Homo sapiens: one gene and its partners. The protein of the gene in region 1 interacts with the protein of each later gene in a pairwise test. Each region holds a gene or a part of one and is shown in the gene's direction. Other genes may lie near its edges. The genes, in order: OLIG3, SPRED1, TLE5 and KRTAP3-3.

The links.
Region 2: the proteins of OLIG3 (region 1) and SPRED1 interact in binary tests that used the Homo sapiens proteins (3 or more experiments, as listed by UniProt).
Region 3: the proteins of OLIG3 (region 1) and TLE5 interact in binary tests that used the Homo sapiens proteins (3 or more experiments, as listed by UniProt).
Region 4: the proteins of OLIG3 (region 1) and KRTAP3-3 interact in binary tests that used the Homo sapiens proteins (3 or more experiments, as listed by UniProt).

What each region holds. Positions count from the first base shown.
Region 1 is NC_000006.12:137,491,699-137,498,517, reverse strand, and holds OLIG3 (oligodendrocyte transcription factor 3), read left to right. Parts: upstream 1-4,123; 5' UTR 4,124-4,347; coding exon 4,348-5,166; 3' UTR 5,167-6,319; downstream 6,320-6,819. UniProt on the Homo sapiens protein: May determine the distinct specification program of class A neurons in the dorsal part of the spinal cord and suppress specification of class B neurons.
Region 2 is NC_000015.10:38,318,813-38,325,842, forward strand, and holds part of SPRED1 (sprouty-related, EVH1 domain-containing protein 1), read left to right. Parts: intron 1-3,428; coding exon 3,429-3,597; intron 3,598-5,950; coding exon 5,951-5,997; intron 5,998-7,030. UniProt on the Homo sapiens protein: Tyrosine kinase substrate that inhibits growth-factor-mediated activation of MAP kinase. Negatively regulates hematopoiesis of bone marrow.
Region 3 is NC_000019.10:3,059,496-3,067,205, reverse strand, and holds the start of TLE5 (TLE family member 5), read left to right. Parts: upstream 1-4,710; 5' UTR 4,711-5,005; coding exon 5,006-5,032; intron 5,033-5,948; coding exon 5,949-6,046; intron 6,047-7,710. UniProt on the Homo sapiens protein: Transcriptional corepressor. Acts as a dominant repressor towards other family members. Inhibits NF-kappa-B-regulated gene expression. May be required for the initiation and maintenance of the differentiated state.
Region 4 is NC_000017.11:40,992,907-40,998,263, reverse strand, and holds KRTAP3-3 (keratin-associated protein 3-3), read left to right. Parts: upstream 1-4,099; 5' UTR 4,100-4,166; coding exon 4,167-4,463; 3' UTR 4,464-4,834; downstream 4,835-5,357. UniProt on the Homo sapiens protein: In the hair cortex, hair keratin intermediate filaments are embedded in an interfilamentous matrix, consisting of hair keratin-associated proteins (KRTAP), which are essential for the formation of a rigid and resistant hair shaft through their extensive disulfide bond cross-linking with abundant cysteine residues of hair keratins.

The sequences.
Region 1 (6,819 bases):
GGCTATTCCTTGTTTGCACATGAGGAAACATAGTTAGAAATGTTTAGGTTTCCTTTTTTTGTTCTGTTTTGTCTTGGAGGGTGGTTGGGTTGAAAGGTGAAGCCCACAGGGCAGCCTCCCGCCTTTCGGTCTCGGCCAAAGTTTCTGCTGGTCAAGTTTGCTGCTTGATGAGCGAGAGGAGCCCCTGGACGTTGCTGATTGACCTGCCTCTCACAGTAGCTCTTCGGCAGGTCAGCTAGCGACATTTGCTACTGGACTCTTGCGGGGGTGGGGGTGGGGGTTCGCTCCTGAGCCAAAATCGCCGCGGCCTCAGGCAGAGCCGGCAGCTGCTGGAGAGGAACTCGGTGGCTAAGGCTGCGGAGCAGTGGGCGTCGGGCACCGAGCGGCGCGCACTGGGTGTCAGGTAAGAGACGATCCCTGGTGATCTGGGAGGCACAGGGGGGTGTTGAGCACAGCACAGCTTCCCGAGTGCGCGGTCCCCGCGGAGCGCCCTGGGCGCGCGGGTACAGCAGGACGGCTCTTCTGCCCCGGTCCACGCGCCGACCCGCTGTTTTCATATGTTGTAGGAAGGCTGAGAAACTCCAGGCTCTTCTCAGAGCCAAGACAGGCTTGGAGGGAAGTAGCCTGCCTGCCTTGGGACGCACCTGTTGCCGGAGAACGATCCCCGCCTCCGCGGCGCAGCCCGCCCCAGCCGCGAGGGCGCGGGGTGTGGCCCGAGAGAGCGCAGCCCGAGCCACCGCAGCAGGGTCGCTCGCTCCGGCTCCTCGCCGGTCTGAGCCCTCCGAAAGGGGTCTCGGCCAGGGCCAAGGTCATGGTGCGTCTCCGGCTGAGCCTCTGTAGGCTGCTGCAGCCTTGGCCAGGCGGCGACTCCTTTACTCTCTCCTTCCGTACAAGTCTGGGGTGGGCGTTGGTAGTCAGCCCTCAGAAAGAAATCCGTGTGCCTGCCCTCCTGAGCTCCGGGCCTGCTCCTTCTCGGGTTCAGGGCTCAATCCGAGGAACTGAGCTGCGGTGGCGGGGGTCGAAAAGAGACTCCACGAAGCAAGACGTGCGGGGCGACTCAGCCTTTTGGGCCCCGGCGAGTATTAACCCATTTTACGGTAAGCAAAGTTGTGGCACCTTTACTCACTCCCCTCGTCTAGTTGTCAAGCCCCGCAACGGATGGGAAGTGGGGGAACTAGCTTCTAAAAGTACTTACTGGAAGGAGGCCCTGAACCTTGGACCACCCACACTCACGCATTACGGACCTTCGAAAAAGCAGAGGGTGACCGAGGAGCGGAGGGCGCGCCACGTCCCGGCCTCGGAGCCAGGGAGTCCCGGCCTGGTCCCCGCAGATCTCCCATTTCAGGCACCTCTGTTACTGGAGCTGAAAACCCTTAGGGAAGAAGGAAGGGAATGTCCTGGTCTGTTCGGGCAAAGGCCCAGTCGCCCCTTCCCGGCCCATCGCAGCCCCCTCGGAACCGGCTGCGGCAGGCGTCAGCCCCCTCTCGGCTGAAAGGCTGTGCTGAAGGAGAGTGGCTTCTGGTTTGGACTCCCAGAACCCTGGCCCCGGACTTCCAGCCCCGCAAGCTTGTATTTCGAGGGCTGCTCTACCCTCCTTCCCTCCCCTCCCCCCGCCCACGGCTTGCCACCTTCGTTACTAATTTGGGGGAGATTTTAAAACTTTATTTTACATTGTCCACTGGGAAAATCAAGACTTTTTTTAAAGGGTAAAATATCTTGTAGCAACATGATTTTTCCACTCCTTCATTTGCAACCCTTCTGCTCTGACCAGACAATTCTACTTCCCCAAATCAAAACTCAGGTGCAGCGTTTTCAGTCTGGGTGTGGGAAGGACAGACGCCGCCGACGACCTAGGGTCAGGGAGGTGGCTCAGGAGGACGGCGGGGGCCAGACCTGTGCACCGTCCGCAGGGCGGGGAAGCTGCTCTTCGTCCAGTCCAGTGCTCGCTCCCAATGCCCTCCCCCGTCCGCCTCTCTCTCCTCACCCCATTTGATCAGCAGGGGAGTCGCAGAGGGTTGTCGTTAGGACTAGCCACTAGCTTCCTCCCATCACCTGGGACTGCACAAGTTCTGGAGCACTTCCCCCCTCCCCTCCTTTTTTAAATAACCAGGAAGACTTAGTGTATGTCACTATCTTATTGGCGAGTCTGGTGAATTAAGAAACATTCTTTATGCTTGGTATTAGGAATGCTTTTGGACATTAGTCTTTCCACATCCAATCTAACCTCTTGAATTAAGAAACTTTCCTTCCACCGAGATGAAGGTGGTAGAAGAGGCTCCTGTCCAATCTGCAAGAGCACTAACTTCCTGGCCTTGACGAAGGGCTGTTGGCCATTTTTCCCCCATTACAGAAAAACAAAATTCGGTGTAGCAAAAGCATCCATGCCAATGTTGCGTTTGCCCATCCTTCTGGTATTGGCCAGAGCTGCCTTCGCAGCGTGACTGTCAGTGGGGCACAGCCTCAGAGCGTGCAAACTCCGGACCTGGGCGCGCATCCCTCTCCCACTGACCGCTCGGTTTGAGTCAAGGGAAAGGGGGGCATCCTGTTCTTCGAAGTGACTCAGCGGCGCAAGAGGCCCCAAGTGCCCGAGGTTCCGCGATTGATTCGATTTCACACTTCCACCGAGACTCTCAGTCACTAGCTAGCGTTTGTTTCCCGTTCCACCAAGCCGGGAGAGGGGCGGTGTCCGGGTTCTTCTAGAGACCACTCCTGGGGCTCTCTCCCTTCCCGGGATTTCTGCCTTCCCGCCCCTCGTGCTGCTGAGCTAAAGTCTTGATCACAAAAACACAGCAAGGGGGAAGAAAGATCTACGCCCACCTCCGCACTCGCACCGAAGGCTCCAAACTCCGACCTCCTCTTTATTCCCAGAAACGACTCTGCGCTGAACCGCAGTGCCCGGGCACGCACAAGGGGCTTTCTAGGTCCTTTCGTTGTTTCCCTTCCCCCGTGCTTCTTTGCCCACGCACCCCACCCCCCCGCCCCACCACCCCGACATCAGATAGTTTATTATGAGCTTCTGATTTCCCTGTCCGACGCCGTACGGCGGCCCCAGCCTGGTGGACCCACCCGCGCAGGCCGGGGTGCCGCTGAGTTCCCGGAGCTCGGGGCACGTCAGCACAGCGGCCAGAGGAGGCCCGGCGGAGCTTCGGGCGCGGACCGTCCCACCGTTTTGCGCCAGCGCCAAGGTCCAGGAAGCCTGGAGTGGGAACAATCTCTCTGGAGCTCTCAGGAACCTAACAATCTCTCTCTCTGCCTCCTTGGCTCCTTTTCCTTCCCATCCTCCCAAGTTGCTTTTCTTGTGACATTAACATTTTTTTTTCGCAGTTTTTGGTCTAGGAAGTTAAAGAATTGTGCAAAACTGAAATTCTTTTAGAAATCCATGTTTTAAAACGAAAGAGAGGACACAGAAAATAAGAGACCTCTCCGCCACAATACTGCCAGGAGCAAAGCCATCACCGAACATGGACATCCCGTTGAAACCACACCAGAAGGGCCCAATAAACAAAATTGACAGAATGGAAGTGTTTAGGAAAAGAGATCTAATGAAAAAAAAATATTGAGACAGAGAAAGTCGGCATGCAGTCTTCCCACCACCCCCAGCCCCCGCTGGCAGCACCTTCCCTCCGACCGCACCTCTGTCCCTCAAACCTTTCCACTGAGACCTATTTTTGCCCATATTTCTCTAAACTTGGGAGCAGCCAGGAAAGAAAGGAGAGCGAATGTTTCAATTCCTCTCTCCAAACTCAGAGGAACCTCCACCAACCGCCTGGCCACCTTCTCTTGCCTTCCTTCCGTTCCTGATGTGTGATTTGGTTAGAGAAATTGGGAAGGGGGGTGGGGTGGAAGAAAGTTAAAAAAAAAATCAGGAAGGCGTAAGCTGGAGCGGTGAGTGTGTCAATCAGAGGGTTTTGTGCCTGGGGGCTCCTAGCGGTTCGGAGCAGAGGTGTCCCAGGGCGGCCCCACAATGAATATGAATAGGAATCCTTGCTAAATGGGACAGCAAAGCGCACCGCCCTGAATGATGGCACGTCATCCTAACCAGCCCAGGATAGATAGGAGGGCTCCTTTTGTCTCTTTTCTCCGCCGCAGCTCTATAAAAGCCCCTCTTTTTCAGCGTGAGGTTAGTTCAAGCACACACCAACTAGCTGTCCAGGAAGCAGCCTAACCAGAGAGAGGGGCGTGGGAGGGAGAGAGGCGGGGAAAAGCAGCGTCTCCGCTTTTCTTCTCACGTCTTGCCGCGGAGAAGTGGGTTCCTGGGCAGTGCAGATTTTTTTTTTTTAATTCAAGATTTTCTTTAATTTCCCGCCTAAAGCCTCCCCACGGTAGGGCCGCATCCCCTGTAATAAAATGAATTCTGATTCGAGCTCTGTCTCCAGCAGAGCTTCATCTCCGGACATGGATGAGATGTACCTGAGGGACCACCACCACCGCCACCACCACCACCAGGAGAGCCGTCTCAACTCGGTCTCGTCCACGCAGGGCGATATGATGCAGAAGATGCCCGGGGAAAGCCTCTCGCGGGCTGGCGCCAAGGCCGCGGGAGAGAGCAGCAAGTACAAAATCAAGAAGCAGCTGTCGGAGCAGGACCTACAGCAGTTGAGGCTGAAGATCAACGGACGCGAACGCAAGCGGATGCACGACCTGAACCTAGCCATGGACGGGCTGCGCGAAGTCATGCCCTACGCGCATGGGCCGTCGGTGCGCAAGCTCTCCAAGATCGCCACACTCCTGCTCGCCAGAAACTACATCCTCATGCTCACCAGCTCCCTGGAGGAGATGAAGAGGCTGGTTGGCGAGATCTATGGGGGCCACCACTCGGCCTTTCACTGCGGGACCGTGGGCCACTCGGCCGGCCACCCCGCGCACGCGGCCAACTCCGTGCACCCGGTGCACCCCATCTTGGGCGGCGCGCTCTCATCTGGCAACGCCTCGTCACCGCTGTCCGCCGCCTCACTTCCCGCCATCGGCACCATCCGGCCTCCCCACTCGCTACTCAAGGCGCCCTCCACGCCGCCCGCGCTGCAGCTGGGCAGCGGCTTCCAGCACTGGGCTGGTCTGCCCTGCCCCTGCACCATCTGCCAGATGCCGCCGCCGCCGCACCTGTCCGCTCTCTCCACAGCCAACATGGCCCGGCTGTCGGCCGAGTCCAAGGACTTGCTCAAGTGAGCAGCGGGCGGGCCCGGCTGCCAAGGAGGAGGGAGAGCGGCGGGAGGGGCCGCGGTGCCGGGCCGGGAGGGAAGAGGGAGGCTGCACGCTCGGCCCACGGGAGGGCAGGCTCCGGGGCCCGCAGCCTCCCACGCTGTCTGAGAGATCTCAGACTCCACTTGACCCCCGGAGGGAAAGGACCAAAATCAAACCGCAATTTCTAGGTGGTAGCAAAGGGGGACTCGAACCAGATGTCGTGTGTTTTGCATGCATGCTTCTTTTCCCCATGCCGCGCCAGTATTTTTCACTGCCATATGCTCTTGTCAAAACTGCATTTGTTGTATAAAGATGGGATCGGTGTAGTTAAAAACTTGCGAAGGGACTTTTGAGTTGGCTTTCTCTGACTCTGTGTTCTCGCTTTGGAAAAAGACGGCCATCCCTTTTGTGCAAAACAAATGTAAATATTTTCTTGAGATGGATGCGATTATGATTGTCTCTGTCCTTGCCACAGTTTTTCTAGAGACAATGGAGAGAGAAAGAGAGAGAGAGCGCGAGAGAGATCAAGACCCAAGTTTTGAATCTCAACCGAGGTCCAGGGCATGACACCTCCTATGTGGGTTTTCCTTTCGACGCAGTGTAGGTCAAAAGAATGCATGCACGCTTCTAAATGAATCTTGTCTGAATATGTCGTGCAGGCTGTGGTGCCGTTTTCCTTGTAACAAGGATTTATTAGTGAATTATCCCAAGTACTCCATATATCTGTCTGTGGTTGTATGAAATGAAAAAAGGGGCAGAGTGCAAAGACCCACACTCACGCACACGCGCTTCTTCTCCCACCCCCACCCCCTTCAAACTTTATTCGGAACCTTCCTTTGCTGTTCTGGGGCCGCTATTGTAAAAGCCTGGGCTCCCTCTAGTAGCTTGCGCCACCCCCCCTCGCTCAGTTATTCTGCATGCGGGGTTGGCTCTCTCTATTATCAGCTTTGAAAACTTATCCTGGTTTTGGGAGGGGTGCCGTTTTTATTTTCCTGAACATTTGCTTGAAATATTTTGTTAGGGCCTCAAAGACGATACCTGTCTTTATTTTTTATATATTCTTGATAACTATGATATATTTATTAATAACCAGTGTTTCTGGATGAGATTTCAAATAAAAAAGAACCTTTAAATCGTGGCTTTGCCTTTGCCTAAAATCTTAGCAGATGGGGGTAGTGGGATAGGAAACACGTGGACCAGGTAAGGTGTATCTGGGTGAGGAATTTGGATGGGTGGGCAGATGTGAAGGTTTTCCGTGATTACGTACAAGTAAACAGGATGGGTAAATTGGTGCTGATTTTTGGAACTAAATGTCCTTCAAGCGGGCATTGCCCACATTCATAGTATTATGCTATTTGAGCTCATTTCTCTGCAGTAATCAGACCCTCATAAACTCGAGAATTGAATTTTAAAAAGTAATCTGGAAACTTAAAGTGGCAGGAAATGAGAGGTGGAGTGTCACTACGATGACTGTGTTGGCAACAAACAAGGATGAAGCAGTACGTTAACTTCTTTTCACTTTAAATTGAACTTGTGCTTTTCCCCCCATGTTAAAATCTAGTATACATTTTAAAAGTCAACAAAGAGTGGTCTTAGAAAATAGTCAAATACTCACCCTGCTTGCCTGCACCCTCGGAA
Region 2 (7,030 bases), on another chromosome or scaffold:
GTATATACATACCACATTTTCTTTATTTAATCCACCATTGATGGACACCTAGGTTGATTCCATGTCTTTGCTATTGTGAATAGTGCTTGAACTTATTTTTAAAACTACTTTTTCTGTGAGTGTTGGGAGGCTCTAAACAATAGATGCCATTTGAAGACAAGATTAGGGTAGATCACATTGAAATTTTATTTGAGAGTTAATAGTTGAAAATATTAATTTTGTAAAATAGAAGAGGGGGCTAATTCAGTAATATTTTCATGTATTAAAAATTAATTTGGTGTTATTATTATATATTAAAAAACTAGAATCAAACTGTTTTTATGTCTTCCCCTTTTTAACAATTCCAATTTAGCATTGTTTTACAAAATACTGCTTTTCCCACTGTTTATGAATATAGTATAAATGTTGCAGTAATTTATGACACTACCATTTACTTCCCCTTGAATTCTAGAACTTAATCGTGAATTGTTGTTGTTGTTGCAAAATGGTTGTAACAAATATTTAATAGTAAATCTGTGTAAAATGCTTTAGCAAAGTGCCGACTCAAAAAAGCTCTGGATACATGTAAATTATTTTCTTTTTTTGAGACAGAGTTTTACTCTTGCTGCCTAGGCTGGAGTGCAATGGCATGATCTCGGCTCACTGCAACCTCTGCCTCCCAGGTTGAAGTGATTCTCCTGGCTCAGCCTCTCGAGTAGCTGAGATTACAGGTTCCCACCACCACGCCCGGCTAATTTTTGTATTTTAGTGGAGACGGGTTTCACTATGTTGGTCAGGATGGTCTTGAACTCCTGACCTCAGTTGATCCACCCGCCTCAGCCTCCCACAGGGCTGGGATTACAGGCGTGAGCCACTGTGCCTGGCGGTTAATTCTTTTCTAATACACATAGAGTCATCAAAGTATAGGAAGCAAAAGTCTTGAGAGAATTTCACTGCATTGCCTATAAACGGGCAGGACTGAACCTTAGTCACATTTTTGGTTATTTCTGAATTAATAAAACTTACTACCAAGAATTATTATATTCAGTGGTATGCTGATAAAAGGTTTAACAATCAGCTTTCAAGAGGGGACACAAGTCAATGATTTATAGCATTTACATACCTCTACCATGGCTGCTTTTACTCAACATGCCATCATTGCATATAGCATTGGGAAGAAATGAGCAGCAGTGTGGCATTATATAGTATTTCCACCGTACAGATATGACAGACATAAACTACCTCAAGAACCTAGGTAATTGTAAAAATATAGTAAAATAATTAGGAACTGATGAGTTTTGTGTATTTATTATTTTATTTTTAATGCAATTTATTTCATTGTAGAGTTATATATTCTAGCTTTTAACAATGGCTTCCAAAATTCTTGAAAATTTAATATCTGGCTCTTGGGAGCCAGTATAAGCAGACTCTAGCAGACCTCCCCTCCAAAAGTATAAATTAGAGATTCCTAGTCCATGATCTGTGAATGAGTTCCTTGGGAAGTGCATAAAGCCTAAAAGATTTCTGAGGAGAAGTATTGGTTGAGTACCTAATGTTTGTCTGCCACTGTAGTTTAAGGATTTGGCAAACAGACAAAGACCAGCTCATGCAGGGCCTAGTAGGTCATAGTAAGAATTTTAGTCTTGAAAGCATTGAAAAGACATTGAAACTAGGGAGTGGTCCAGTAAAGTTGCTATTTTTTTTTAAGAAAAATTATTACTCTACCTGCAGAGTAGTGCAATTACTATTAGTAATTCACTACTACTAGTAATATCTGAGGGGATCATCAGCAGTGCATGGAAGAGATGTGCAAGTGATAATGGTGATTGGAAAAGAGTGGAGGTAATGAAAATACAACCTTTCACCAAATACCAGCTGAGCATTTATTATGTGTCATGTGCTACTATGGGTTTCATTTGAATTATTTTTAATTCTTTTCCTCCTGTTTTCTTATAGGGGATTCTTAAAATAATTAAGGTGTGTAGTTCTAGTCTTTTTATTAGATTAATTGCAAAGATCACTAATATATCCACTTTTGTTTTATTTGACAACTAACATATATTAAAAGCATACTGTGAATATGATGAAAGACAGGCCCAGGAACGAAAGACTGAAGAGACCTTATAACTGTCCTGGAATGGATCCTATACTGGAAGGATTTTTAAAATGCTCTAAAAGGTGTTATTAGTATAGTAGGCAAAAGTGGAACGTGGTCTATGGAACATGGTCTATAGATTAAAGTTCTGTGTTGGTTTTAAATTTCCTGAATGAGATCACCATACTGTGATTACATAAGAGAATAGTATTGCACTTAGGAAATATACTCAAGTGTGTATTAAAGAGCAGTAGAACATAATATATGTAACTCCTTTGAAATAGTTCATAATAAAGTAAATTAAATGTTTATACATGGATATATGTGGAGAGAATGTTAAAAATTAATGTGATAAATCTGGATAAAGGGAAAACAGGAATTTTCTGTGTTATTCTTGTTACTTTTCTACAAATTTGAAATACTTTCAAAATAAAAAATTTAAAAACCAAGGGTATATTGCTTCATGCATTGCATGAAGCTCTTAACATGAATGCACATTCGGTCATTCCACTCTAAGCTCTGGGATATTTTAGTACTGCAATTTCTGTTTTACAGATGAGTAAACTAAGGCTTCAAAAGTTAGGTAACTCACTTAAATGCATATTTTGAAAAAGTGGCCAAGTGTATTTGTTTTACTGCTGTGACCATTAAATCCTTACACAAAATATAAATACGTCTTTTAAGAAGTTTAGGAAAATGACTTTATTTTGTTTTGTTTTGTTTTTGAGACAAAGTCTCACTGTGTTGCCCAGGTTGGAGTGCAGTGACGTGATCTCAACTCACTGCAACCTCCACCTCCTGGGCTCAGACGATTCTCCTGCCTCAGCCTCCTGAGTAGCTGGGATTACAGGCATGTACCTCCACACCCAGCTAATTTTTTATATTTTTAGTAGAGATGGGGTTTCACCATGTTGGCCACGCTGGTCTCAAACTCCTGATTTCAAGTGATCCGCCCGCCTCGGCCTCCCAAAGTGCTGGGATTACAGGTGTGAGCCACTGCCCCCAGCCAAAAATGACTTTAAAAAGTTAAATTTCTATTATTACCAACCCCCTGCCTGTTTCCTGGAAGTAATTCCTGATATATTCCTCCAGAAATTTTGTATGCAATGGGAGTGTATATATGTGTGTATTCTTAAAATGGGAGTATAATAAGCATCCTGTTTATAATGTGCATTTTTTTATTCCATCTTAATCTCTTTATTGAGTGACTTTGTGAAGTAGACCACTTTATTTAAAATACTAAAAATTATTCATTAAAAAGTAATAGCGTTGTATCACCTCAGTTTGTATTTATGAGCTACATTAGATGCATTTGATATATGTATATTAATTTTTGGTATTTGGCTTTTGTCAGGTGGTTTTGGAATGTATGCTTAAAAAAGACCTCATTTATAATAAGGTCACTCCAACATTTCACCACTGGAAGATTGATGACAAGAAGTTTGGTCTTACGTTTCAAAGTCCTGCTGATGCTAGGGCTTTTGATAGAGGTATCCGAAGAGCTATAGAGGATATTTCTCAAGGTAGGTATTCTTGACTATTTTCTTAATTTATTTATCGGTTATATATAGTAGAGGTTATCTTTCTTAAAGTTGACCCAAAGTAGTTTTCACACTTTAACCATGTCAGCTTTTGTGATATGTGACCAGGCTTTGAAACCTCACAATAGATGAAGATAAAATAATAGATTCCTTAACGTGATTTGTATTTGTCACATCATAGTCTATGTCAATTGCATGTATTATCTTGAAGAGTCCATCAACAGCTGACTTCAGATAATTCAAATGTTTTAAAATAAGAGCTTGAAGGAAGAGGGAATAGAAATGTACAGCTGCGAGAATCCCAGTTGGTATTCTACTTGTGTATGTATGACACCAGTCACATCCTTTTTTTGGGTAATTATATAGAACTTGTAATATTCAAATGTATGTAGACTCTAGTTATTCCATGACAAAAGTCTTTACTTGATTGATTTCATTATTGAGGATTGGCAGAGACCACAAGCTCATCTATTCCTTTGTTATCTTGCCAGTCTATTAAAATTATTAACTCAAAAGCATACAGGTTTTGAAGGGAAGAATAATGTTTTTTCATGTAAGACTGGCTTATGCTTACTTAAACAAAAATCACATTAAAACCCATTTCTTCCCATAAAGGAAGAACTAAGACTTGATTTTTTTTTCTAATTAGGAGGAAAATTATTTCAATTTAACTAACTTTCTATATAAAGTAACTGAAAGTGTGCTAGACTACGTTGTGATTTGTGTTATTTTGAAGATGTCATTTTAATAAGAAAATCTGAAAACATAAACTGTGAGACCAGTCACAGGCAAGAACATGGAAATACATTGTACAAATCTGTTTTGATAGTGCATAAAACTGTAGTTAAGTAATTTATTTAGCTACTTTAAAAGATTAGAATTTGGTAAATGAGTAATTTTTTATTCTGATCCAGAAAAAATTACTATGAAGTAATAGTAGCCATTTTGTCTTTATTGTAAGACCCCATAAATTCTCCTTAGATCAGTGTTCTTAACCTTGGCTACACATTAAAATCACCTGGGAAGCTTTTGAAGCTTAAAATGACTAGTCTGCACTCCAGACCAATTGAATCTATCTGGGGAATAGAGTCGAGTCATCCCTTATTTTTCAAAAACTCCAAGAAAGTTCAAATATGGTGAAGAATTGTTCTCTAGTCAAGGAATTGTAATTTGAATTTGAAGAAAAAAAAATAAGAAACTTAAAAAAAAAAATACATGATGTTCTGTGCCTCATTCCACAGAGATTCTGATATATTTTGGTTTGACGCCATACTCTGGCATCAGTGTATTTTTTGACAATTCCTCAGTTGATTCTAACCTTTAGCCAGGTTTGAAGAACCAGTGCTTTAAAGAGAGAGAAAAATAGTATCCATGGCTGCTGGAATTTATATGATTTAAAGTTTTGAATTACTTTTAAGTTTATGCTCATGTACCATAACAGTATACCTCTTTCACTAGGATCAAACAGATTGGGTTTAATGTTTTAAAAAATGATTTATAAGGAGTAGCTTACAAACTTCTAGGTAGAGTAGACTACAGTACTTAGTCTGCCTTGTTATTTTTGAACATTAAAAAACATTAGCTAGCATTATTATCAGCTGCTATATAGACTTTCAACAATCTCAAATTGCTTTTACTCGACCTTCTGTGACAAAAAGATAAAATATGCTGCTCTTTCCAAAGGGCGCATTTCTTCTTATCTCATGCCTACTCCGTGCTAAGCTGTGCCTCTCAAGGGTAGCATGAACTAAGAGTACTTTGCTAGGACAAATCCTTTCTTATTAATTTATTGAAACTAAAGGTACTCTTAACAGCATGAAAATCTGTACAGAGACGTTGATGCAAAAAAGTCAGTAACAACAATTGGCCATTAACTGTCAATAGTGGATTAAAACTCATTTGTTTTCCATCTTAGCTAAAGCAACTAAAATCCTGGTTATGGGTACTAAATACTGTTTCCTGGGTCAAAGCATTTAGAAAAATTGAATAAATCACATCTTAGCATCACCAGAGCAATGTAATTATAATCTGCCTAGTAATTTTGAGTATTTGGGAGAAACTAGGGGCAGGGGTAGCTAGAGATAGTATACTTTCAGAGAAAACATCTCGTTAGTAAGCAGCTGGAAATTTACCTATAGAGGAGGGAAATAATTACATTATTCTCCATTATTCTAACAGGGGCAAATGCAAGTGGCCAGTACCTTAATTGCCAGGCAGTCCAGAAAGATCTCTGATTAGTCTTCTAAAGTATTATAATGACATAATCAATTAGTCATTAATACTGGACTCTAAGACAAAAATTCTATACTTAATTAACTTTTATCTATTTTCTTAGGATGCCCCGAATCAAAAAATGAAGCTGAAGGGGCAGATGACTTACAAGTAAGTAATGGCTTGGAAGGAATTTGTAAACATAAAGGATGTGGAAGAAATCACTAGCCTTATTCAATAAACTTATCAATTACTAAGAATATTTCTAAGACACTCTATTTGTCAGATTTCTCCAGAAGAAAAGAACCAATACAGGTTGAGCATCCCTCATCTGAAAATTTAAAATCTGAAATGTTCCAAAATCTGAAACTTTTTTTCTTTTTGAGACAAGGTCTTGCTATGTTGCTCAAGCTGGTCTCGAACTCCTGGGCTGAAGCAACCCACCCACCTCCCCACAGTGCTGGGATCATAGGCCTGAGCCACCGTGCCTGGCCCCAAAATCCGAAACTTTTTGAGTATGGACATGACACCTCAAGTAGAAAAAATTTACACTTGACCTCATGTGATGAATCACACTAAAAATGCAGTCAGAATTTTGTTTCATGCACGAAATTATTTAAAATCATGTATAAAATTACCTTCAGCCTGTGTGTTATAAGGTGTATAAACATAAATTTCATCTTTAAATTGGGTACTATCCTTAAGATGTCTTATTATGCACATACAAATATTCTGAAATTTGAAACAGTTCTGGTTCCAAGCATTTCAGATAAGAGATATCAATCTTTATATAGAAAGTAAAGTTTCTGGGGTTTTTTTTTTCTTTTTTAAGGAAGTGGTTCATAAGATTGTGGGCTGGGTTGGCAGAATGGGCAGGCACGCTGAAAATTGGCACAAGTTGATGTTGCAGTCATGAGAAGGCCGAATTCTATTTTCTTCAGAGGACCTCAATCTTTTTTCTTATGCCTTTCAACTAATTGCGTGAGGTCACCCACATTATGGAGGATGCCTAACTGCCATATTAAAAGGACATTCAAGCAACACTGTGTAGATATTCATGTGGTGAGGAACTGAAGCGTTCAGACAATAGCCATATTAGTGAACCACCTTGGAAGCAGGTTATTCAGCTCCAAGCAAGCCTTAATAGATGACCAGTTGTGGCATGTTTTCATTGCAACCTTATGAGGAACCCTGAGCCAAAACC
Region 3 (7,710 bases), on another chromosome or scaffold:
CTTAAGAGGGGCCAGGCGTGGTGGCTCACACCTGTAATCCCAGCACTTTGGGAGGCCCAGGAGGGCAGACTGCTGGAGCCCAGAAGTTCAAGACCAGTCTGGGTAACATGGTGAAACCCCATCTCTATGAAAAACAAAAATTAGCCGGGCGTGGTGGCACACGCTTTTCATCCCGGATACTCGAGAAGCTGAGGTGGGCAGATTGCTTGAGCCTGGGAGGTCGAGGCTTCAGTGAGCCGAAGTCACACCACTGCGCTCCAGCGTGGGTGACAGAGTAAGAACCCTGTCTCAAAAAAAAATAAAAAAGCTAAGGGGATGCCAAATACCTAAGTCATCAGGATAAACACTATTTTGATGCAATCTACTTTTATTTTTTGAGATGGAGTCTCCCTCTGTCGCCCAGGGTGGAATGCGATGGCGCTAACTGAAGAATCTTGCTCTAAAACCTCCTGTGGCTCCCTAGTGCCCTCCAGGTAAAATCCCAGCTCCTCAGCCCAGCAGCACGTGCTGCCATCGTGTCCCGGCCAGAAGCCACACTGCAGAGTGCTCAAAGGCCCAAGGTCAAGATCAAAGGCCTGGGATAACATCGTGGTTCTGCCCCCTACCCACTTGGCCAAGTCACTTCACTTCTCTGTGACTCACTTTCCCCATTTTTTTTCGTTTTCTTTTTTTTTATTTTTTATTTTTGGAGACAGAGTCTCATTCTGTCGCCCAGGCTGGAGTGCAGTGGCACGATCTCGGCTCACTGAAACCTCCGCCTTCCGGGTTCAAGCGCTTCTCCTGCCTCAGCCTCCAGAGTAGCTGGGATTACAGGCGCCCACCACCACGCCTTAATTTTTGTATTTTTAGTAGAGACGGGGTTTCGCCATGTTGGCCAGGCTAGTATCAAACTCCTGATCCTCAAGTGATCTGCTTGCCTCGGCCTCCTAAAGTGCTGGGATGACAGGCCTGAGCCACCCTGCCGGCCTGTTTTCCCCCCATCTCTAAAATGGGTGTGACAACTGTACCTAAAGGTTAAAGTGCTTAAGGCAGCCCCTGGTGCGGAGCAAAAACATACAGACCTGTGTGGCTTGGTTGATTATTTATAGTGTGGGCCACCATTCTGGGCTGCCTTCTATGCAGAAAAAAAACCTATTTTCTAAAAACGATGATTTCACAATGACTCTCTCCTTCACAGGCCTAGGTCCCTGTGGGTGGCCCAGCCCTCACCTCACCGTGCTCAAGGTATCTGTGTCCAGTTCTGCTTCCCCTGACAGTGTGGGGGCTTCGAAAATGGGGCTGTTTGGTCACTGGGCGGGCACACTGATACCGGAAGGCGCCTGCCTAAATAAACACTGGCAGGTGGCCTCCCAGGAGAGGGGGTGTCTGGTCCCCACGGCAGTGGGGGTGGGGTGGCAGGGGTGCTAGCGGCAGGACTGGCTTCAGGGGCAGTCTAGGAACGCAGTCTCTCAGGGCCCTGCAGGAAAAACAAGGGTGTTGCGGTTGGTTGAAGGCTTGGCTGTTACTAAGTAGTATTAATCTCTGTTTCTTTGTTTCTTTTTTTTTTGAGACAGAGTTTCGCTCTTGTCGCCCAGGCTGGAGTGCAGTGGCACAATCTTGGCTCACCGCAACCTCCACCTCCCAGGTTCAAGCAATTCTCCTGCCTCAGCCTCCCAAGTGGCTAGGATTACAGGCGTGAGCCACCATGCCAGGCTAATTTTGTATTTTTAGTAGAGACGGAGTTTCTCCATGTTGGTCAGGCTGGTCTCAAGCTCCTCACCTCAGGTGATCCGCCTGCCTCGGCCTCCCAAAGCGCTGAGATTACAGGTGTGAGCCACCACACCCGGCCACCAAGTAGTAGTAATCTTAAAAATCCAAAATCCTAATCCTTTCTAGCCTCATCTTTTTTTTTTTTTTTTTTTTGAGACAGAGTCTCACTCTGTCACCCAGGCTGGAGTACAGTGGCGCGATCTTGGCTCACTGCAACCACCACCTCCCAGCTTCCAGCGATTCTCCTGCCTCAGCCTCCAAGTAGCTGGAATTAGAGGCGCCCGCCAAAACACCCCGGTAATTTTTGTATTTGTAGTAGTGACGAGGTTTCACCATGTTGGCCAGGCTGGTCTCGAACTCCTGAGCTTGTGATCCACTGGCCTCGGCTTCCCAAAGTGCTGGGACTACAGGCATGAGCCACTGCTCCCGGCTTACAAAAAATGTTAAAATTAGCTGGGCATGGTGGTGCACTCCTGTAGTCCCAGCTACTCAGGATGCTGAGGTCGGAGGATCACTTGAGCCCAGGAGTGGGAGGCTGCAGTGAGCTATGATTGCACCACTGCACTCTAGCCTATGCAACAGAGGACTGTGTCTGAAAAAATTTTTTTAGGCCGGGTGTGGTGGCTCGCGCCTGTAATCCCAGGACTTTGGGAGGCCGAGGCAGGCAGATCACGAGGTCAGGAGATCGAGACCATCCTGGCTAACACAGTGAAACTCCGTCTCTACTAAAAATACAAAAAATTAGCCGGGCGTGGTGGTGGGCGCCTGTAGCCCCAGCTACTCGGGAGGCTGAGGCAGGAGAATGGCATAAACCCGGGAGGTGGAGCTTGCAGTGAGCCGAGATGGCACCACTGCACTCCAGCCTGGGCCACACAGTGAGACTCCACCTCAAAAAAAAAATTTTTTTTTAATAAAAATATTAAAACACTGCTTTAAAGATTATTAATCTTGATCACTGAAGGCTATCACCCTTACCTGCCAAGGTAAGGAGCCTGGGGTTCCAAGTCTATTTTACAGATGGGAACACCCAAGGCCCAAATCAATTGCATTCATTCAAGGGAGCAGGCTGCCTAGTGGATGACGATGATGAAGAGACTGTGTTTCGCACCTGCCAAAGGGGGACCTTAATGTCATAGCCTTATTTCAGTAGCCTCTTTGGGACCTGTTCTCTGCGTGGCAGAGAGAGGGATCCTTTAATAACCGCCACCAGGTCCCATCCCTCCTCTTCCCACGGCTCTCCAGGATTCCCACCTCACTCAGAGCAAAAGCCCAAGTCCAGGGCCAGGCGCAGTGGCTCACACCTGTAATCCCTGCACTCTGGGAGGTGGAGGCGGGAGGATCACCTGATGTCAGGATTTCAAGACCAGTCTGGCCAATATGGTGAAACCTGTCTCTACTAAATATACAAAAATTAGCCAGGCGTGGTGATGCGCACCTGTAATCCCAGCTACTCAGGAGGCAGAGGCAGGAGAATCACTTGAATCCGGGTGGCAGAGGCTGCAGTCAGCCAACATCACATCACTGCACTCCAGCCTGGGCAACAGAGTGAGACTCCATCTCAAAAACAAACAAACAGCTGATCACGGTGGCTCACGCCTGTAATCCCAGCACTTTGGGAGGCCGAGGCGGGCAGATCATCTGAGGTCGGGAGTTCAAGACCAGCCTGACCAACATGGAGAAACCCCGTCTCTACTAAAACTCCAAAATTAGCGGGGCGTGGTGGCACGTGCCTGTAATCCAGCTACTCGGGAGGCTGAGGCAGGAATCACTTGAACCCAGGATGCGGTGAGCTGAGATTGTGCCATTGTACTCCAGCCTGGGCAACAAGAGCGAAACTCCATCTCAAAAAACAAACCAACCAACCACCAGGTCCCGTCCCTCCTCCTCCCACAGCCTTCCAGGGCTCCTACCTCACTCAGAGCAAAATCCCAAGTCCTCCCCAAGACCCACAAGTCCTTGCTGGACTGGCCTGCTTCACCAGCTACAGAGTTAGCAGGGCCCAGTGCAAAAGAAAACTCAAAGGCCCCTTGTTCAAAAATGATTAGAAATCTCAAAATGCAGCAGTAAATATTAACCCAAGCACAAGCCCTGCTGTGGGGTGGGGGGGCCCTGGACAAAAGCACGAAGCCCCCGGCCCTGCCTCCCTCCGGCCTTCCTGACCTCCCCCCGGGCACTCTGCTGCCAGGCACAGTCCTGCCCCAGGGCCTTTGCACCTGTTGGTCCTGCCTCTGACTACCTCTGTACCCCATCCCCCTGTTCTCCCTCCTTCTTCAGGTCGCTTTAGGGGTGGAGGAAGCCGTCTCTGATCCTCCCTCCCACCTCTTTAACTTTGCACCTTCCTACCCTGCCATTCTCCCGGCTGGTTTTTCTGCAGAACTGTCCCCACCATCTGACCTGCCAGGAATTCAGCTTGTGAATTTGTCTCTGTCTGTCTCCAGGCACCACCACCAGGGCAGGGACCCACCCCCGCCCCGCCCCACCCCAGGGCCCTGGAGCAGCGGGGCCTGGCACACAGTAGGCGTTCTATAAATGTGTCACAAGAATGGCTTCCCTCAGGAAGGCGGCATTACCGCTGCCTTTCTGCAGAAAAGGAAACTAAGGCTCAGCAAGAACCACCGCCCAGCCAGAGCCAAGGTCACAGAGCACGTCCGTGGCACGCGTCCAGGTCGTGCCACAGCAGGGCCGGCGGCTTCGACGCGGGCAGCCGGGTCCCTTTTCTTTGACAGATGGGGAAACCGAGGCCCGGCCGGCTGCCGGGTAGGAGAGGGTGGCGGGGGCCGCTGCCCGGGGCGGGGGCGGGCCGGGCCCAAGGTCACCGCGGCGGGCGGGCCACGGGGAGGCGGGCCGGCGTGGGGATCCGCAGGCCTCCCCGGGCGCGCGCGTCCCCCCCCTCGGCGGCGCGCACGGGGCACGGGCGGCGGCAGGTGGAGCCGAAGCCTCCGCAGCAGCCGAGCCGCGGCCACTGCCGGCGTCGCCGCCATTAGACAATAGCGGTGGGGCCGGGGAGCGGGGAGGCGGGCGGCGGGGAGGGGCGGGGAGGGGCGCCGGGCGCGCAGGAAGCGGGGCCCGGGGCGCGCCGGGGCCGGGCGCGCGGGGAGGGGGCGCAGGAAGCGGGCGAGGCCGGGCGCGGGAGGCGGCGGCGGCCCCGGGAGCTGCCGATCGGCGCCGGGACAAAGGCGCGGCCGCCCGGCGCCCCCAGCAGCCCGAGCCGGGGCGCACAGCCGGGGCGCAGCCCGCGCCCCCCGCCGCGATTGACATGATGTTTCCACAAAGCAGGCATTCGGTAAGCGGGGCCCGTCCGGCCGGCGCCCCCACCCCGGATCCGGGCCCTACGCCCCCGACCCCCGGCTCCCGGCCCCGCGCCCCCCAACCCCCAGGCCCGGTGCCTCCGGCCCGGCGCCCCCCCCAACTCCCCGGCCCTGTCTTCCCTCTCCAGCTCCCAGCCCGGCGCGACCCCCCTCCCCTCCTGCCGCCGGCCCCCGGACACCCCCCCTCCAGTTCCCGATCCACCCCAGCTTCCGGGCCCCGAGCCCCCCCGCCGCAGCTCCCGGCTTGGCGCCCCCCCCCCCCAACCCGCCGGGACAGTCAGGGCCTCGGACGGCCTTGGCCTCGGGCCTGGGGCGCTCCGGAAGCCCCGCGAGGCACCTCTAGCCCGGGGATCCTTTGGGGGCCTGTGGTGGGGGGGGTGATCCGAGGCGCACCCCTCCCGGAAGAGCGTGTCCCCGAGGAAGGGCGCTGGGAATCTGGGGTTGGGCCCCCCCGGAAGATTTCGAGCACCGAGAGAGAGACCCCTCCCCCAAGAGGACTTTGCAGGGAGGAATCGCTGCCCCCCAACTTGGGGAGGGGGCTCCCTAGGGCGCGTTTCTACCCCCCTCGGATGTGCACTCCCTCCCGGCGCTTTGGAGGGCGGTAGAGGGCGCACCCTGCCCCCCATCTAGGGCGGGCCTTAAAACGCACCCCCACTGCCTGGGGGTGGCGGGGGACGGGGCGGCTCCGGGCGCACCCACCCGCTCGGCTTCCCCCGGGAGAGGCGGGGGGCAGGAAGCGCGGGTGGGGTCGCGCCAGGGGCCGTAAACACGGGCCCAGGAAGTGGGGCAGGAGGGGGGGCGCCGCAGCTGCGCGGCCGCTCCCTCCTAGCCGGCCCTTGAGGGGGGTCCAGCCCACGCCTGGGCCTGACCCGGGCCGCCCCATCCCTACAGGGCTCCTCGCACCTACCCCAGCAACTCAAATTCACCACCTCGGACTCCTGCGACCGCATCAAAGACGAATTTCAGCTACTGCAAGCTCAGTACCACAGGTGAGCTGGGGGACTGGGGGTCCCTGCGTCCCGAGAATGTGAGTCCCCCCATTTCTTCTGCGCAGATGGCAAGGCTGAGGCCTGGAGATTGGGAAAATAATATATGCTAGACTCTGACCTAATCACTTGACAAATACTGAATTCATTTATTTTAAACAGCCCCATTTTGTAGAGGAGAAAACCGAGGCACAAAAATAGTTAAATAATTTGCCCAAAGATTCAGCTGTGTGGCTTCAGAGCCCCTCCCTCCTCCCCAATACCCCCAAGTCCCCCATTGGATAAAAGACCTTCCAACAATTGGAGTTACGGCACGGACTCGCCATCCCTCAACCCCCAAAACAGAAACATTCTGCAGCCTGGTCATCTCTCTCTTTGCCCAGTTTTGGAGAAAGGGTTCCCAGCACCCGTCAGATTCTCCAAGGTGCTGCTTCTTTCAGAAATCTGGCGTTTCTGAAGAGCTTGCCACGCTGCGGTATCTAAGGGGAAGGAACTATTTAGTCCTCTTACACTTAAAGAAACTTAAGCCCAGGCCAGGCGTGGTGGCTCATGCCTGTAATCCCAGCACTTTGGGAGGCCGAGGAAGGTGGATCACTTGAGGTCAGGAGTTCGAGACCAGCCTGGCCAACATGGTGAAACCCCGTCTCTACCAAAAATACATAGTTAGCTGGGTGTGGTGGCGGGCGCCTGTAATCCCAGCTACTCGGGTGGCTGAGGCAGGAAACTTGCTTGAACCCGTGAGGCGGAGGTTGCAGTGAGCAGAGATGGAGCCACTGCTCTCCAGCCTGGGTAACAGGGAGACTCTGTCTCAAAAAAAAAAAAAAAAAAAAAAAAGAAAGAAAAAAAGAAACTTAAGCCCAGAGATGTTATGATGTTATTTCCTCGGGGGTGTCCATAGCATTGAGGAAGTGGCAAGGCTGAGGTTTGCACCAGGTCTCTCTCCTGGTTTAAGGATATAGGTTCTCGCCTGCCCTGCTCTGGAGGGGCACGCCGGGCCTGGGAATCTGGAGAAAGTCAGGCTATGCTCAAACCCCCGTTTGGCCTTGGGGCCCTCTCTAAACTGAAGCGTGCCCACCCCAGAAGTGTTCCTGGAAGGATCCTGGATTTCCTCCAAGTAGAAAGGGGAATCTCGATTTTGTTGTTGCTGCTGCAAATATCCCACCTTTTTGGGTACTCCCTGTGTGCTCAAGACCGTTCGTGCCTCCTCGTGCTTCATCCTTCCTGTCGTCCGACTGTCGTACCCATTCTCAAGCTGGGCAAACTGAGACACTGACAGTCGAAGGTGCTGGAGTCAGCTTTCCATGCAGGCCCCAGAAGCTTTTGTGCGGGTTCCTCGATATGAAGGGTTGGATACCGCCTGGTGAGCCCCGGGGCTGACCTGATTCCACAGGGAAGGGATCAGATGGCGGTCACAGTGCTGTGTGACCTCTGCTAAGCCGGAAGCCCTCTCTGAGCTTTGGGGTCTCCATCCGCTGGGCCTGGGCTTCCTGCTGTCCAACGAGGGACCCTACCATATCAGAGGCACACACCGGATGTTCGAGGCGTAACAGCCCCTGGGTGGCCAGACCATCCTATTTTTCAAGAAAGGCCAGAAATGCAGGCTTTGGAGTGAAACTTCTTTTTTATTTTATTTTATTTTTTTGAGACGGAGTCTTGCTCTGTCGCCA
Region 4 (5,357 bases), on another chromosome or scaffold:
ATGTATATCTATACACAATACATATATAAAGACACAAGTCAAAATCTGAAAATGCATTGAAATAAAACCACAAGAAGACATGCAAGAAACAGAGTAGGACAAGGAAGGGGAGAAGCAAATGCTTTTTAACAAACTTGTTTTAAAATGTCCTCAATGTACCTGTTAGTGTCTTGAGAGAGAAATTTCTCACGGGATTCCATAGGCTTTTTACAGCTCAACCTTAAATGAACAGAACTTAGCAGCCATGGAGTCTATGGGACACTACAGAGGATATTGTCAACAAGAGATCTAGTCCATTCACTCATTCATTTGTCCATATTTCCTGAGTGTTTGCCCTATGTCAGGCATCATATTGATGCCAGGAGTAAAAAGATAAAAGAAATGCTATTACCTCAAGTCTCAAGTGCCCTCAAGTCTCTCCCAAATCTAGTGAAGAAGAAAGACAAGTTATCATAATAATAATTGCAATGCTGAGGGATTCTGCTGTGACTGGGAGGTGAGCAGCATGGCATGCAAGCATACAGAAAGAATAACTAAAACCCTGATTTGGTGATTCAGTGTCAAAGGTGAGAAATAGCTACGGAAAGCCTCTGAGCTATCCAGTCTAAGCTTTAAAAGATGAATAGGCAGCAGGAGAGGTAGGGAACAGTTGTTCCAGACAGAATAGCAGCTTAATAAATCATGGAGGCAGCGGAAAGGTTGGTGTCTTTAAGCCACAGGAGGTAGTTGGGAATGACTGGATGAACAATGCATTGAAGAGGGTGAGGCAGAGAAGACAGAAATGCAAAGACCCAGACATAAGGGGCTCCTCAAAGCAAAGGGGTTTGGACTGAAACTTTGAAGCAATGAAATATTTCAAGCAAGAGACCAATATAATCATGTTTTGCTTCTGTCTCTTTTCATTATTAATCTTTGATTTACATCTGCACTGTCCCAGATCCCTCCATTGACTATAGAAAGATATAATTAAAACTGGACTTCTTGGATGTGTGAGTGTGCGTGTGCGTATGTGTGTGTGTGTCTAGATTTTTAGCACCCCGAAAATCTACCATCTCATCAAGAATCACCATGTTTTTCCTACATTCACTTAAAGAAAAAAGATACGCGTTGTTTTTAAAAATAAAATGCTTAGTATCTCTGACACATAGTTTAAACTTCCATTTCTAACCACATAAAAGGTAGCTCAATCCCAATAGGTCCTATATTTAGTTTTTAACACACTGGCTCCCGAACCATCTAAGGCAAATCATCTCACCTCTCTATGAATCACTGTCATCATTTATAAACAAAGGAGAGTAATTCTCAGGTCTCTTAGACCACTGCAGAGAAAATACATTTTAATAAAGTGCTGCAAGTCTTGTCAATAAAAGAGAAGAGCTTATTATAATAAACTTGTTGCATTACAACTGTTTGTAATCTGTAACCTTGTCTTATTTATGATTAGAGAAACACAATGTGCTGCATAAACAGTAATAGTTGCTCTAAGCTTTTATGGTGAACTCAAAGTAATATTGTATCCCAGGTAAGAAGCTGATAGCTTTCTGCCATGAAATTCTAATCCTGAGGGTCTGCAAGCCATGTTTCCTTTGTAATGTTTCCCTCAAAATAATTTTTTCTTTTATTTTTTGTCTTTTACTCTTTTTCTTTCCTATTATAATGTATAATAGCAGCAGCTTATAATAATATGTTATGTGTATGAAAAATTCTTCCACCAAACTGTAAACTTCATGAGGGCAAGGATGGTGCCTATCTTGTTTATTGCTATAAATCCAACATTTATCACAGTGACTAGCACATAGTAACTGCTCAGTAAATGTCTGTTGAATTACTTTTTAAATAATAAGTGAAATACTAATCAGTTCTAAGTAAAAGGGTGCACACTTCGGCAGGCATTCATACAAAGATAAATCTGGGGAAAGTCCAGGAACCAGAAGATATCATGAATTCTCCCTTTCAATCAGAGCCATAGGGAGCTTTTCAAATTTTTAGGTTTGTTAATTTATATGCCAACCACTTTCTCTAATCGTAGATGTGATTATTTATTTATTTATTTATTTGTATAAACTAATATAAATGTTTGCTCTTTCCTGTAAGGTTGCTCTCTTACTTACCTTCATCTCATTTTCTTTTCTTCTTTTGACTATGTTTCTTTTATCTTTACCTTGCCTTGAATTTCATCTGTAATTTGTTTCAATCATGATAATAATTTATTTTTGCATAGCATTATATGGTTGTCCATGAGCTTTCACCCTTTTTATCACATGTGAACCTCACAATAATCTTCTAAGTGGAGGAATATGCATGCTATTACCCTGATTTCGCAGAGAAAAAGGATGAAGCTCCTAAAAGTGAATTACTTACCATAACGAGGAAGATAACCAGCAGCACCGGGAACAGTCAAGAGCTATTCTGACTCCTCAGGTGGTCCTCTTGACTACACGTCCCCATTCCCAAAACATACAAACATGCACACCACAATGCACCACTCAACAGGTGTGCCTAAAAGAGGAGGTATGAAGAATGTGAGAAGAACCATGGCTTGCAAGAAGCATGAGACCAAGCTGAGCGGAAATGGTTCGAGGTGTATAAATGATATTGGCCACAAGCCCACCTTGTGCTCCCTCTTAAACACTGAACTATGCCTGCAGTCTAAATAGCGTACTGGTACTAGAACCAGGTCTTTCCTACCACAGCTACATTTGATTTCAGGAAAAAATGCAATACCTTGCAAAAAAAAAAAGAAAAAAAAGAGAGAGAGAGAATGAAATCAAATGTCAACAGATTAATCTAGCTCAGGCTCATAAGTTTCCTTTGGTAATAATTTTACTTGAATTTTAGTTTTGTATTCTTAAGTTATTATTTTATTTAGTCTATATAGACAGAAGCTAAAAATTCAATTTGCCCACAATTAGCAGTGAAGGAAACAAAGCAAGCCAACTCTCAATAGAAGACAGATGGCCAATATGCATATGAAGGAATATTTCAACCTAGCTGGTTATAAAAGAAATACAGACACAACAATCATAAAATTGTGTTTTTCACCAATGAAATTGGAAAACACCTTTAAAATAAAGTATCTGTCAAAGGTATACGAAATGGGAATTCTTAATCAAACACATCTGGTGGAAATAGATAATTTGAAAAAAAAAGTAGGTAAATAGAACCATTCTGAAAAACAGTATGGCAATGATATGAAAGGCCTTAAAAATACTGGAAATTAACATTTGCCCCTATAATTCTACCAAATAATTAATTCTGTTTCTGAAATAATCAAAAATATGCACAAAGATTTACATACAGAGGTGCTCTGTTGCCAAAATTATTGTAGAGAAAAGTGGAAAATAACCTCAATGCATAATAATATAAAATTTTAAAGTAACATAGAAGTGCAATTATATAATAAATGCTAAGAAATATTAAAAGTAACACTATCAAATATCCTTTAAAATATAAGATAATTATATATATATATAATATATATGCACACACACAAAGGCAAGTTTCAGAACCTATGCACAATATGATTCCAGTAATGTAATGTAATGATAAACAATGTATACAAAATATTTTGTAGTAAAAAACTAGAATAATAAGCGTTTTTTAAAGTTTTTCCATATTTCTTAATGGCATATTTCTTCATGTTAATGTAATTTTGATCTTCAAAAGCCTCAAAGCTAAAAGAAAGTAAAATTAAGTTCAACTCTTTAAAACAAGAATACTTTATCAGACAAATTGGTATAGATAAAGTGACAGATTAAAAATAAAGCAGCACTGGAGAGCAGGCCCACATATTACAGACTCACTGTCATGCAATATTCCCCAGCAGGGCTGGTGTTGAAAATATAATAACAGAAGGCTTTGGTGATACCTCATAAAGCTTGTGTTCCAGTGACAAATAGCAAGGGTAATCAGTTCAGATTTAGCAACGAACTCAAATAAAAGTTAATTAGGAAAATGGGGACTCTTTACAGAGTCTAAATGTCAAACAAATTAAAGAATAATGGGTACACTAACATAAACAAGAACCAGGAAAGAAGCCTCTTGGCTGGACCAACTCCCAGTGGAGAGGGTACATAAGAGCCCCAGAGAAAGGAGAGATATTCACACCTCAGAAGCCTTATCCTTCTTTTCAATCAAACCCATAAATACCACAGACTCTAATAGCCATGGATTGCTGTGCCTCTCGAGGCTGCAGTGTCCCCACCGGGCCTGCCACCACCATCTGCTCCTCTGACAAATCCTGCCGCTGTGGAGTCTGCCTGCCCAGCACCTGCCCACACACAGTTTGGTTACTGGAGCCCACCTGCTGTGACAACTGTCCCCCACCCTGCCACATTCCTCAGCCCTGCGTGCCCACCTGCTTCCTGCTCAACTCCTGCCAGCCAACTCCAGGCCTGGAGACCCTCAACCTCACCACCTTCACTCAGCCCTGCTGTGAGCCCTGCCTCCCAAGAGGCTGCTAATGGATGGCTACTTTGCTCAGTGCCTGAGATTGAAAAAGTCAACATAGAAGCTTTAGCATTCACCTATCTCAGTACCTACAACTAATGTACTCTGCTTTAGAAATTGGAACAAGGATGGTACTACCACAATCACCCCCTGCAAAAAAAAAGAGACCAAGAAACTTTCAATGACCATTCAGCTATAACCAACTGCAGTTTGAATCAGTGGATGCCTATAGCTTCCTGAAGCTGTTCGATTCCTTCATATTAAAGTGTCTCTTTCTGTGGGTGGTTTGGGAATTCTGTTTTCAGTCTTGGGTGGTATCTTTCTGAAAATTAAGGAAGTTCTTCATGATTATCCTAATAAATTTTACATCTCTGGCATAGCACAAGTGTCTACAATTACTTCTGTTTATTTCTGTTCATTCATTAAATGCGTTTCTTAACTCTGAACATTGGCATTTAAAGAAAAACTGGAAACATTAGTGAAACTGAAAATGGTGGCAGTATGGACAAAAATTTCTTAATTTTGCTGTTCTTGCTGTTTTAAGAAAATTAAACATCCTTGCATGTAAGATGGTCTAGTACATCGGCATATTTGAAAGTAGACTTTTCCTGACTTGTCCTCCCAAAAAATGGTTTCAGACAGGTTGAGAAATACTGAACATTACCCAAACACCAAATATGACAAAATATATAAACTAATCCAGGTGACATGATCTATTTATGAAAAAAATATAATAATGTCATTATTTATTCAACTAAGATTTATTAAATGTCTATTGTGTGTCCTGTGTTTTATTGTCTCTGCTGAAAATAAGCTAACCATCTGGCAGGTGAAGCAAATACAAACACAACATCCATTTGTTTCTTCCTACGGTTAATAATTATCGAATGCCAGTTGCTGTGTTATAA